Regions from separate parts of the Homo sapiens genome. Here region 2 is linked to region 1. The links come from fine-mapping of genetic effects on gene expression. A gene starts in region 1. The other region holds a variant in brackets. All regions are shown on one strand. Distances are from middle to middle. Region 1 holds the start of LIMK1 (LIM domain kinase 1). Region 2 overlaps LIMK1 (LIM domain kinase 1).

What was found. PIP is the estimated chance that this variant, and not a neighbour inherited with it, causes the effect.
Region 2: its variant is the best candidate, but not a certain one, in a credible set for the expression of LIMK1 in whole blood (TOPMed, PIP 0.82).

Annotation. Positions count from the first base shown.
Region 1 is chr7:74,082,067-74,084,963 of GRCh38, forward strand. It overlaps LIMK1 (LIM domain kinase 1), which reads left to right and starts at 1,738. Exons shown (of 16, transcript NM_002314.4): 1 at 1,738-1,979. The coding sequence starts at 1,925. RefSeq lists enhancers at 438-1,116, 1,112-1,221, 1,117-1,795, 2,282-2,551 and silencers at 1,492-1,761, 1,882-1,931, 2,042-2,091.
Region 2 is chr7:74,103,810-74,106,706 of GRCh38, forward strand. LIMK1 (LIM domain kinase 1) reads left to right here. Exons shown (of 16, transcript NM_002314.4): 6 at 2,066-2,171; 7 at 2,268-2,434. Among named protein-coding and RNA genes, the nearest start is that of LIMK1, 21 kb to the left of the region's middle. RefSeq lists an enhancer at 1,665-2,165. The variant G/A (reference allele first, on the strand shown) is at 1,522.

The sequences.
Region 1 (2,897 bases):
CTCACGCCTGTAATCCCAGCACTTTGGGAGGCCAAGGTGGGTGGATCACCTGAGGTCCAGAATTCGAGACCAGCCTGACCAACATGGAGAAACCCCGTCTCTATTAAAAATACAAAATTAGCCAGGTATGGTGGTGCATGCCTATAATCCCAGCTATTCCAGAGGCTGAGGCAGGAGAATGGCTTGAACCCGGGAGGTGGAGGTTGCTGTGAGCTGAGATCGCACCATTGCACTCCAGCCTGGGCAACAAGAGTGAAACTCCATTTCAAAAAAAAAAAAAGTTAGAAGAGACAGGGTTTCACTTCATTGCTTAAGCTGATCTCCAATTCCTGGCCCCACGTGATGCTCCCACCTTGGCCTCCCAAAGTGCTGGGATTATAGGTGTGAGCCACTGTGCCCAGCCTTCTTTCTCATGAGAAATTAAAAATTCTGGCCAGGCGTGGTGGCTCACACCTGTAATCCCAGCACTTTGGGAAGCCGAGGAGGGTGGATCACCTGAGGTCAGGAGTTCAGGACCAGCCTGGTCAACATGGTGAAACCTCATCTCTACTAAAAATACAAAAATTAGTCGGTCATGGTGGTGCACGCCTGTAATATCAGCTACTCGGGAGGCTAAGGTGGGAGAATTGCTTGAACCTGGGAGGTGGAGACTGCGGTGAGCCGAGATCCCGCCACTGCACTCCAGCCTAGGCAACAGAGCGAGACCGAATCTAAAAAAAGAAAAAAAAAATCTAGTATTTTCTTCCCACCCCACGTAATTGTTTTGCACCCAGGGGTGAGTGCCCCCCACTTTGCAGACGTGCCTAGACCTCTCCCCACAAACATGATGACTAGAGTTGGAGCTGGGCTAGCGCTGCCTCTTGTTCACTGGGTTCACGTGGGCACGTGGCTCCACTCCGGTCACTGCTTCCTGGGCAGAGGGATGACGTGGAAGGTAGACCTAGGGGGGACAGGGTTGCTTCCTGCCCATGTCCAGCATTCTAGAATTGTCCACATCTAGGCAGGGCGTTCCACCATCAGTGCTGGACTGGACCACCCAATTCCTTTGGACGCTTGACTCAGCCCAAACCCGTGCTCCCTCCAGGACCCTGGGCAGGGCAGCCCCAGCTCCAGGTAATCGGCACTGAGAAGAGTACACCTGTCACCGCCTGGCAGGGGCTCGCTCCTTTCTCTGGTGCTGCTCATTCGCGAGGCCTGAGACGCGGACCGTCACCTTCCCCGGGCCCAGCCTGGCCTCAATGCAGGCCTCAGAGAGAGGGACAAAACCCGGCCCGCCTCCCTCCCCTCCCCAAGGCGACCACCAGTGTCCTGGGGGTCCACAGGGCCTCTCCAGCTCTGATCCGAGTTCCCGGCTGCAGCTGGTTTGGGTCTGTGGGGGCCTCGCGCAGGGAAGCGGAGGCCCCTTCTCTAGGCTCCTACATCCTCCTGGCCTGCCCCAGCAGAGCTAGCGGCCCTCCGAGACAGCTGGGCCTCGCAGCTCCCAGCCGAGGCCTGTCGCTGGGAGAAAGAAGAATGAATGAAGGGCGGAAGGGGCGGGGAGGGGCGGGGCGCGCCGCGCCAGCTCGCGGCGCCCCCAGGCCGGGCCGCAGCGGGGCGTGGCCTCTAGAGGCGTGGCCTTGGGCGTGGGGGCGGGGTTTTCTGGTGGGGGCGGGGCCGCGCAGGGCCGTTCCCGCCGCCGGCCGCCCGCGCCCCGCCCCCGTGCCGCAGCTCACAGGCCCCGCCTCGGTCCGCCCCTCCGCTCGCTCCCCAAGCCGCCGCGGCGCCGAGCCGGTTTCCCCGCCGGTGTCCGAGAGGCGCCCCCGGCCCGGCCCGGCCCGGCCCGCGCCCTCCGCCCCCGCCTCCCCGGGCCGGCGGCGGTGGGCGAGCTCGCGGGCCCGGCCGCCCCCAGCCCCAGCCCCGCCGGGCCCCGCCCCCCGTCGAGTGCATGAGGTTGACGCTACTTTGTTGCACCTGGAGGGAAGAACGTATGGGAGAGGAAGGTGCGCGGGCCGCGGGGTGTGGGGCGAGGGCCTGGAGGGGGTGCCCGGGGCAGCGTGGGGCACGGGAGGGGGCCGGGTCTGCCAGGAGGCCGCGCCCCTGCCTCCTCCGGGATGAGCTCGTCCTTACGAAGCCCGCAGGCCCCTCCCTGTCCCCCTCCCGCCCGGGATCCCCCTCCCCGGCCCCCGGCGAGCTGCCCTCCTGCGGGTCTGGGGGCCCCTGGACCCTTTTTCCTCCTCCCACGTCCCCCCGCGAAGGACTCCCAGACACTGCCCACCCCGCGTCGGCCTCCATCCGCGTGCTCTGTCCACCACCCGGGCCTCGCCCTGGGGCCACCCTTTATCCAGTCTCGGAAGAAAGAGCGGCTGGGGAAGCCGCAGCCCCGGGTCCCAGTGGCCGCCGGGCGCCTGCCCGGCTCTGTGACCTTGAGCCAGGCGCTGACTTCCTGGTCCTCAGTTTCCCCTTCTGTACATTTGGAAACTGGGTAGTTGCCCCCCCGGTGTCGGTGATTGGGGGCCAGATGGGTAGAGCGGAGATAGGCGTCCAGGAAGCCGGAGGCCGTGTACTGCGGGAGCCTCATCCACTCTCCCTGTCCGTGCCCCAAACCCGGTGCCTGCCCTCAGTCTTGGCTGGGAGCATGACTCATCCTAACCTCCTCTTTAGCCCCTTCTCCCTCACTGGGGCCCAAGGCGCAGTACTGCACTGCAGTTAGGGTTCAAGGACTCCCCCAGCCTAGGACAGGGTCTGGGGGCCCCTCCTTGGATCTCCTTCGCTGACCTGTCACTTAGATCCACCTGGCCCCAAGGCAGGGCCTGACTCCACACCTCCCCCTGCCACCAACTCTTCCCAGGCCCATGAAAACCTGATTGGGGTAGGGGCCCACCTTCCTGTAGCCCCTGCCTACCTAAGGTACCTGCGTC
Region 2 (2,897 bases), 22 kb after region 1:
TTTGAGATAGGGTCTCACTCTGTTGCCCAGGCTGGAGTGCAGTGACATGATCATAGCTCACTGCAGCCTCGACCTCATGGGCTCAAGCGATCCTCCTGCCTCAGCCTCTCGAGTAGCTGGGACTACAGGCAGCACCACCATGCCTGGCTAATTTTTTATTTTTTGTAATGGTGAGGTCTCACTATTTTGCTCAGGCTGGTCTCGAACTCCTGACCTCAAGTGATCTTCCCACCTCAGCCTCCCAAATAGCTGGGATTACAGGAGTGTGCCACCATGCTCAGCTAATTTTCTGTAAAAAATGTCATAGAGATGGGGTCTTGCTATGCTGCCCAGGCTGGTCTCAAACCCCTAGTCTCAAGCAATCCTCCCACCTTGGCCTCCCAAAGTGCTGGGATTCCAGGCATGAGCCACCACACCTGGCCCTGTTTTTCTTAAAGTTCTCAGTCTCCTCTCTGCCTTACCCCCATCCCCTTTTCCATCTCCAGGACCTAGGGCAGAGACAAAGTGAGCATTCCCTAAAAAGCTTTTATGAGGCAAAATGAAAACCAGCTCACGCCTATAATCCCAGCACTTTGGGAGGCCAAGGTGGGTGGATTACCTGAGGTCAGGAGTTCAAGACCAGCCTGACCAACATAGAGAAACCCCATCTGTACTAAAAATACAAAATTAGCCAGGCATGGTGGCACATGCCTGTAATCCCAGCTACTCAGGAGCCTGAGGCAAGAGAATCACTTGAACCTGGGAGGCGGAAGTTGCAATGAGCCGAGATCACTCCATTGCACTCCAGCCTGGGCAACAAGAGCAAAACTCTGTCTCAAAAAAAAAAAAGAAAAGAAAAGAAAACCAGGTCCCTAACACCGAAGAGTTAAAAGAAATAAGTAAATTTGGCAAATTGGTCTTTTTGTGAGTTAGCTTATAGGCAACTGATCGAGGGTCTCTTTCCCGTCTTCACCCTGCAATTGTGGCTCAGGGCAAGCTGCCAGCTCCCTCCTGCCAATGCAGGAGCAATAGAGCTTGGCCTCCTCTTGCAGGGCGAGTTTGGGAGTCAGATATGAAGCCACTAATCCGGGACCTTTTTGGGACCCAAGGCACTCATCTGCCCCAAGCATACCAGGCAGGCCAGGTGCAATGACTCATGTCTGTAATCCTAGCACTTTGTTTTTGCGACGGAGTCTCGCTCTGTCCACCCAGGCTGGAGTGCAGTGGCAGAATCTTGACTCACTGCAACCTCCACCTCCCAGGTTCAAGCAATTCCTGCCTCAGCCTCCCAAGTAGCTAGGACTACAGGCGCCCACTGCCACGCTCGGCTAATTTTTGTATTTTCAGTAGAGACGGCGTTTCACCATGTTGGCCAGGCTGGTCTCAAACTCCTGACTTCAAGTAATCCATCCACCTTGGCCTCCCCAACTGTTGGGATTACAGGTGTGAGCCACTGCGCCCGGCCAGTCCTAGCCCTTTGGGAGGCTAAGGCGGGCGGATTGCATGAGCTCAGGAGTTCGAGACCAGCCTGGGAAATGTGGT[G/A]TAACCCCGTCTCTACTAAAAATACAAAAAAAATTAGCTGGGTGTGGTGGTGTGCACCTGTAATCCCAGCTACTCAGGAGGCTGAGGTACGAGAATCGCTTGAACTCAGGAGGCAGAGGCTGCAGTGAGCTGAGATTGTGCCATTGCACTCCAGCCTGGGTAACAGAGTGAGATTCTGTCTCCAAAAAAAAAAAAAAAAAAAATTCGAGACCAAACATACCTGGGATTTGGAAGGATAGATCTGTTCCCCCAGGGTGGAGACAATGGTCCATTGAATGGGAACAGCTGAGCATCTTGTGTGGGTGGCCAGTGCCTACAAGCGTGCCACCTTTCTCCAGCTCACACCTGTGGCAGACATCAGTAATTGATTACAGAATTCCTCCCCTGAAACCAGAACTCGGTGTTCTGGCCATCTGCTACTTCCCAGTCACACGAAGTAGAATCCTCCACCTGCTCACCCTGGATCTGGTGCCCTTCGCCTTGGTTTCCTGTTGGGGCTCTGAGGGACAGGTGGGCACTGGCCTGACCCCTGCCTTACCCACAGAGTGGATCCGGGCTGCATGAGCCCAGATGTGAAGAATTCCATCCACGTCGGAGACCGGATCTTGGAAATCAATGGCACGCCCATCCGAAATGTGCCCCTGGACGAGGTACGGTCCTGAGTCTGTGGGGCAGGACGGGAGGTAGTGCCTTCATGCCTAGCCCCCTCCCCACTCCACCCCCATTCACATGCCTGCTGTCCCCAGATTGACCTGCTGATTCAGGAAACCAGCCGCCTGCTCCAGCTGACCCTCGAGCATGACCCTCACGATACACTGGGCCACGGGCTGGGGCCTGAGACCAGCCCCCTGAGCTCTCCGGCTTATACTCCCAGCGGGGAGGCGGGCAGCTCTGCCCGGCAGAAACCTGTCTTGTAAGTCAGCCTGCTCCTCGGTTCAGCTGGGTGCTTTCACTCCTGCTGGGGCTCAGGGGCTGTGGGACCTAGGTCGGGGAGCCAGCCCTGCACAAATGCAGCCCAGGCTTGAGCCAGGGAGGTGGAGGCTGCAGTAAGCTGTCATCACACCACTGCTCTCCAGCTTGGGTGACAAAACAAGACCCACTCTCAAAAAAAAAGAGGAAACACACATTTTTTAAAAAGCCGGGGACGGGGCCAGGCGTGGTGGCTCATGCCTGTAATCCCAGCACTTTGGGAGGCCGAGGCAGGTGGATCACCTGAGGTCAGGAGTTCAAGACCAGCCTGGCCAACATGGGAAACCTCATCTTTACTGAAAATACAAAAATTAGCCGGGCTTGGTGGCAGGTGCCTGTAGTCCCAGCTACTCAGGAGGCTGAGGCAGATGAATCACTTGAACCCAGGAGATGGAGGTTGCAGTGAG